2 linked regions of the Homo sapiens genome follow. The protein of the gene in region 2 purifies or fractionates together with the protein of the main gene of each other region. This does not show direct contact. Each region holds a gene or a part of one and is shown on either strand. Other genes may lie near its edges.

Region 1 (3,500 bases), on a different chromosome or scaffold from region 2:
CTCCAGCCTGGGTGACAGAACAAGATTCCGTCTCAAAAAAAAAAAAAAAAAAAAATTGATTATATGTACAGCATGATTTGCTAGTCATTCAGAGTTTACCAGATTATACTTTTGAGCACACTATCTTTGCTGGAAGTTTAGTTTTTAATGTGGTGCTATCAAAATGCTTTTTTAAAAAATTTTTTTTGAGGGATAATTTGAATGATTTGTATGTATAGTAAATATTAAAATTAAAATGATCCATGAATTAAAAGATTGATCTTATTAAATAGAAGACTCCTCCAAGTTCTTAAAGGCTAGCGCATTCAAACTTTCTGAATTAGAAATAGATGCTAATCCTAGAAAGAGTATTAGTCATGAAAGAATACTTCCCTTAGGGATCCATTCAGATGCTCTAAATTATAAAATTCATTAGGAAAGAAGGAATATGTGCCAGTTGTTCATTTGTATTTACCATCTTTTGCTTGGCTTATAACCCTTGCCCTAAGTAATATGCGGATAAGGATTCTAATGGATGAGATTCTCTAATGAATGAGACTTAGTCTTCTATATTTAAGAGTCTGTAGCCTAAATGTCGTAAATCTATCAATGACCAGAAAGTTCATGCTGGCTTGTGAATTATAGTAGCAATAAGATGGCAAACTTCACCTTTACACATTTTGTAAGCCCTTCACTGGCTCCATTTCTAATGAGTTATTCAAACATCTTGTAGTTCTGAATTTTCATATATTGAATTTTCTCAAGATGGGAGTTCATCTATTTTCATAAATATTTACCTATTCAAATAAATATTTTTATAAAGTGTCTCATTAGAGCAAAGAATACATATGGATAAATGTTCCCTCTCCCTGCTGCACTTCAGAATTTTGGGAGTTCCAAAATGCTACTCTGAATCTAAAAATCGGCTTTAATGACTTTAGCTAAAATTTGCCATCAGCTGATTATTTAATTTTGTTTATTTCAGGAATAAATCCCTACAATAGGTATGATGTTCTCAGTTGTTTTCTTCCTTACTGAATTTGTCTAGAATTAATATTTGATAATGGCTAGTTTACTGTGGTTTACATGTAAATAATCCAAAGTCATGGGACGGAATCCGAGGTTTAATGTCAAAAAACCAGGATTCAAGTCTTGGCTCAGCCGTAGATTCCTTATGTTTTTAGCAAAACACTTAACTGAGCTTCATTATCCTCATCAGTGAAACACAGATAAAATGATTACCTGTGTTTTATAGAGTGCTGTGGGTCAACTATGATGATACATGCAATAGCAATTTTGAACTATAATGATGATAGCTTTATTGAGCATTGTTCAAAGTGCTTTGCATGTATTAGCATGCTTAATCCTCATAACAACTTGCTTATTATCCCCATTTAACAGATTAGAACACTAAGGCACAGAACTCGTTAAAAACATGCACAAGACCACACAGCTACGATTTAAACTGGTCTTGCTCCAGAGCTTGTGCTGGTAACCACTGTACCACTTTAGATTATGTTAAGGCACCAAACTGATGTAAATGTATTGAGAAAGAATTGTCAAGGGAGTAATTTGTCCAAAGAATATCATCTGAAACATTTCTGCTCTGTCCTTTTTTTCCCTGCAGTCATTCTGCTGACTGTTGTACTCAACTGTTGTTTTGTCAAGCGTTCAGTTTGCTGCTGTGGCATTTCCCCTAGTGTTGGCATGTTCTCTTCATAGCAGGATCAGTGAAAAGCTGCAGAGGAATTGGATGATAAAGTGGAAAGAACATAAAGACTTATTCGTTGGGTTCCCAGTGAGAACAAAGATGCTTCCTCATGGACCCCAGGAGTCTTTAGAATCTTTTTGGCTCAAAAGAGAAATCTGTCCCATAAGCAGTTTGTTAGAGTAGAATTTTTGACAACCCTGGCAGAGACTGAGGCTTGATAAGCCTCTGAGAATAAATCAGTTTCCTCCACGCTGTCCTGTGGAATAACGCTTGGCCATAGTGGGGTGGCACCTGCACTGCTACCATCTTGGCCTGCCTGTGGTGGCATCGGGGTCCATATGCTGCCAACAAGATGCCACCCTAAGATTACTTGTCCCACCTTTTTAAAAAATAGTTTAACTGAACCCTCACATCAACTCCATAAACAATATGGGAATTCCAGTGCCCAGTAAAGAATTTCATGTTTTTGGGTTGAGGAAATAGAATTGTTTAAAAAATGAATTGCTTGAGTGCTTTGAGTAAATGCGTAGAGAGGAAGATGGTTTTGTAGATTGCCTTGGGGCAGCCTACAGATGTATCCATGGCATGAAAACTGTTGACGCTGGGATTTTGGACAATGGAACCATGAAAGCCGGAGCCTGCTGTTTAATATCTTACCCAGAGGAGACGGACACCGGAGGGCACAGACCACATGCTGTTCTCACTTGTTTCTACCACCACTCCTTGCTCAGTTGCCTCTCGGGTTTGTGTTAGCCCTAAGCAAAGAGTTCATTGAACAGTACTTTTTTTGATGTTTTTAGACTGAGATAAGGAAATAAACGTTTTGGAAATGCTGCACAATCTAGAAAAGATTTTGCAGGAAGCTGCAATTGGCCAAGATGACCGTTGTGGTTCATAAGCAGCCTATGTGTGAGCAAACCCTTTCTAATGATTTCAACTCCATTCTTTATTCAGGGGCACTGAAGCTTCAGCAAATGGTTGCCCCGACCTTCCTCCTCTTCCTTGCAACTTTCAGGGTGACTGCTCACCAGGTCATCAGTCCTTTTGCTGGCATGGCTGGCAGTTCAAGGAAGCACTTACCATGCCTTAATTTCAGTGATGCATTTTTTTTTTTTTTAAATCTGGGCCTTGGTTAAAGACCTCCAAAGAAGAAAAAGGGACATTTTCTAGCTAACAGTTAAAATCATGTCCCCTGAACCCATGTCCAAGGGGAGGATCTGCAGGATCTTAGAGTCTGAGAGTCTCTTCCTCTTGCCCAAGTCCAAGCTCTGGATGTTGGAACTTTGCTGTGGGTTATTCACTTAACCTGCCAAGCAGTTACTCCCAGAGGCCATTTGGAGTATAACTATTTTTTAAGTGCTTAAAATAAGACTAAAAGTTACCAGATTTGCTACAAAGATACCCTTGCATATCTCCTGACTCCTTTTATGGAAAAGCAAATCTGGCTTTCTTGAGCTGCTAAATCTGTGGTTCTTGAATCCGTCCTTAGAAACATAGAACAGCTAGTGCCTAAGTAGGTGATTTATACTATAAAGAACATAGATAGGGCACTTCCCAATGATCCCCTTCCCACTGAAATACAGCAATGACAAACTGGATTGCTCTTTAAGTAGAAAATAAATGCACATCCCTATCTTATCTACTTTTCAACATCAAAGATCTGTACAACATTGCAGCATGCTTTAGTGAAGAGAAAAAAACCCAGAGATGTTATATTTTTATCTTATAGACATTTCACATAGGCCATGTACTTTATAAAATCTACCACTGCTAGTGAGTCGAGATCGCGCCACTGCACTCCAGCCTGGGC
Region 2 (4,140 bases):
GAGTAAAACTTCGTCTCAAAAAAAAAAATTAAATTAAAAAAAATGATGCTGGCATAATTGACTATCTTGATTTTTTTAAAGCTAGGTCTGCTTATCACAATGCTGACAGAGAAAAGATTTATATGTAAAAAAGAAAACAATAAGCATAGTAGAAGAAAATATAGAATATTTGTATAAGCTTATGGATGGGGAACATGTTCCAAAGTAATAGGAGAAACTCAGCCAGGCACAGTGGCTCATGCCTGTAATCCCACCACTTTGGGAGGCCCAGGCAGGTGGATCACTTGAGATCAGGAATTCGATACCAGCCTGACCAACATGGTGAAACTCCATCTCTACTAAAAATACAAAAGTAGCCAGGTGTAGTGGCACATGCCTGTAATCCCAGCTACTTGGGAGGCTGAGGCAGGAGAATCACTTGAACCCAGGAGGCGGAGGTTGCAGTGAGCCGAGATCGCGCCATCGCACTCCAGCCTGGGCAATGAGAGTGAAACTCTGTCCCTCCACCTGCAATAAAAAGGAGAAACTCAGAAATCATAAAGAAAAAGATAGATATCTGTGTAGGCGTGCAATCAAATGTTTAATTTTGATAGGACAAAACAGATCCATCCCGTAAGCAAAGCCAAAAAACAAAAGATCAACTGGGAAAAATATTTGCAGTACCTATGATAGAAAGGAGGTTGGGGGCTGGGCACGGTGGCTCCCGCCTGTAATCCAAACACTTTGAGAGGCCGAGGTGGGTGGATCACTTGAGGTCAGAAGTTCGAGACCAGCCTGGCCAACATGGCAAAACCATGTCTCTACAAAAAATACAAAAATTAGCTGGGCATGGTGGTGCACACCTGTAGTCCCAGCTACTTGAAAGCCTGAGGCAGGAGGAGAGCTTGAGGTCAAGGCTGCAGTGGGCCATATTTGCGTCACTGCATTCCAGCCTTGGTGACAAAGAGAGTCTCAAAAAGAAAAAAGATTCATATCGGAAAAGTACAAATTGGTCAAAGGTCTAGGCTTTGTAATCTCCCAACTGTAGAGGTGACAGAAACTGGCTTTTTCCCAGAAAGAGGGACTGGGCCATCCAAACAGTCCCAACATGTCTGTTGCTTTCACAGCCATGAAAATGATCATGAGAATGCCATTAATATGTCTAATGATAGCTCCATATATTGGACACTTACATATTAATGTGTAGAATACCTTATGTTAAACACATACCGTTTATGTGTACAGACACGCAAATATGAATATACTCACATATGTGGATAAATGTGTGTGTAGGGAGTGTAAATAAGTAAAGGACATGCAAAGTTACACATCAAACCGATTCCCTCGGGGCAAAAAGGGTAGGGTAGGGGATTGAGATTAGGCATAGCGTTCCCAGGAGACTTCAGCATTATTTAAAATGCTTTTATTTTTAATAAGAATGTATTTACTGGGTAATGAAAGATTAGTTTCTCTTAAAAATATGACTCCAATCAAATTCCCGTCAGGATTTTAATGGAATAATAAGCTGATTTATTAAATAAAAAGAACAGTAAGTGAACAAGAATATTCAAGAAAATTTTTTAAAAAGGAAAACATGAAAACATATCATAAAACTATAATGATTAAGGCTGGGTGCGGTGGCTCTTGCTTGTAATCCCAGCACTTTGGGAGGCTGAGGCGGGCAGACTGCTTGAGTCCAGGAGTTCAAGACCAGCCTGGGCAACACGGCGAAACCCTGTCTCTACAAAAAATACAAAAATTAGCTGGGCATGGGGGCATGTGCCTATAGGCCCAGCTACTCAGGAGGCTGACGTGGGACAATTGCTTGAGCCTGGGAGGTGGAGGCTGCAGTGAGCTGAGATTGGGCCACTGCACTCCAGCAAGGATGACAGAGTGAGACCCTGTCTCAAAAAAAAAACAAAAAAAAAACCCTCAAAACCAAACAAACAAACAGAAAACAAACTACTACAATGATTAAAACAACATAGAATTGGCTTATAATTTAATAAATAGATCAACGTAAGAGAATCAGGAATTCAGAAACAGACCGATGTTGTGCAGGAATTTGGTAAATAAGACAGAGGGCTTTTTTTTTTTTTTTTTTGAGATGGAGTCTAGTTCTGTCACTCAGGCTGGAGTGCGGTGGCACGAGCTCGGATCATTGCAACCTCCGCCTCCCAGGCTCAAGCAATTCTCCTGCCTCAGTCTCCCGAGTAGCTGGGATTACAGGCGCCTACCACCACGCCCGGCTAATTTCTGTATTTTTAGTAGAGACAGGGTTTCGCCATGTTTGGCCAGGCTGGTCTCGAACTCCTGACCTCAGGTGATCCACCCGCCTCGGCCTCCCAAAGTGCTGGGATTACAGGCGTGAGCCACGGCGCCTGGCCTAAAAAGATAACCTTTTAAAGATGTATTCCTGCCAGACTACTGGGTGTCTTTCTGTCTGTCTCTCTGCTTTACTGGCATTCGTCCCAGTTCTCATGCACTTGGGGTTTTCTCCACATGTTTCGTAGCCATGCAGATTTGATTTTTTTCCTGAAATAGTGCTACTGTGTCTCTTTAACAGGTGAGGAAAACAAGGCCCAGGGAATTAAGTGACTGACATAAGCACATATGGCTACTCAGTGGCAGAGGTTCCTGTGTGTCTGGCTACCTGGCTTTTCCTATTTGGCTTCCTGCCCATCTCTGTCACTATCTTTCCCTCTGACTCTTGTTTCTCTCTCTCCTCTGTCTCTCTTTTGCAAAGCTGCCAATTTTAACAAGTCCAAAATGTTGTAGAGTTAAATGGTTAAGAACAAGGACTCTGGAGCCAGTTCAGCCACTGCCTGAGTTCAAATCTTGCTCTTCAACTTACTGTCTGTATAACTGGGACGAGTCCTGTCACCTCTCTGAGCCTCAGTTTCCTCATCTATAATATGGGGAAAATGATTGTCCCTACTCTATAGGATTATTTTGACAATTCAGTGAAAAAATATTATGTGCACAGAATGGCCCTAAGTGTTCACTACACATTAGCTAGTTATATGTTATTATGACATCAATAAAGTGCTCGACTCATCCCAAATGGGCACATGAGTTTCCTGAGGCTGGGAACCACATCTTCCACTCCACAACTATTTAAAACAATTTTGAACCTACAATAAAGTTAAAAGAATACACTGAACACCCATACATACTTCATCTAGATCCTCTATTAACATTTTTTTGGGCCACATTTGCTTTATCTCACTCTCTCTGTATATAAACACATTATTTTTGCCAACTTATTTGCAGACATCATGACATTTTACCCCTTCATACTTAACTGTGTCTTTCCCAAGAACAAGGATATTTTCCTTCAATAGATATGATACCACTACCACACTGCTATGGTTTGAATGTGTCCTTCCAAATTCATGTGTTGCAATTTAATTACCAATGTGATCATATTAAGAGGTGGGGGCCTTTAAGAGGTGATTAAGTCCTGAGGGTAGAGCTCTCACAGATGGGATTAGGGCTCTTTTTTTATTTTTTATTTTATTTATTTTTTGAGATGGAGTCTTGCTCTGTTGCCCAGGCTGGAGTGCAGTGGTGCGATCTTGGCTCACTGCAAGCTCCGCCTCCCGGGTTCATGCCATTCTCCTGCCTCAGCCTCCCGAGTAGCTGGGACTACAGGCACCCGCCACCACGCCCGGCTATTTTTTTGTATTTTTAGTAAAGACAGGGTTTCACCGTGTTAGCCAGGGTGGTCTCGATCTCCTGACCTTGTGATCTGCCCGCCTCGGCCTCCTAAACTGCTGGGATTACAGGCGTGAGCCACCGTGCTCAGCCTCTTTTTTTTTTTTTTTTTGAGATGAAGTCTCGCTCTGTCACCCAGGCTGGAGTGCAGTGGCAAGATCTTGGCTCACTGCAACCTCTGCTTTTCGGGTTCAAGCGATTCTCATGCCTCAGCCTCCCGAGTAGCTGGGATTATAGGCATGTGCCACTACACCCGGCTAATTTTTGTATTTTTTTTAGTAGAGACAGGGTTTCACCATGTTGGCCAGGATGGTCTCGAACTCCTGACTTCAGGTGATCCGCCTGCCTCAGCCTCCCAAAGTGCTGGGACTACAGGCATGAGCCACCGTGCCCAGCGGATTTGGGCTCTTATAAAGAGGTTGAGGGTGTGGGTTCACTCTCTTC

What was found.
Region 1: the proteins of TBC1D25 (region 2) and DCLK1 purify together in Homo sapiens (affinity purification with mass spectrometry, with the first as the bait; one large-scale study listed by BioGRID). This does not show direct contact.

What each region holds. Positions count from the first base shown.
Region 1 is NC_000013.11:36,107,383-36,110,882, reverse strand, and holds part of DCLK1 (serine/threonine-protein kinase DCLK1), read left to right. Parts: intron 1-3,500.
Region 2 is NC_000023.11:48,545,881-48,550,020, reverse strand, and holds part of TBC1D25 (TBC1 domain family member 25), read right to left. Parts: intron 508-4,140; exon of another isoform or gene 377-507; intron 1-376. UniProt on the Homo sapiens protein: Acts as a GTPase-activating protein specific for RAB33B. Involved in the regulation of autophagosome maturation, the process in which autophagosomes fuse with endosomes and lysosomes.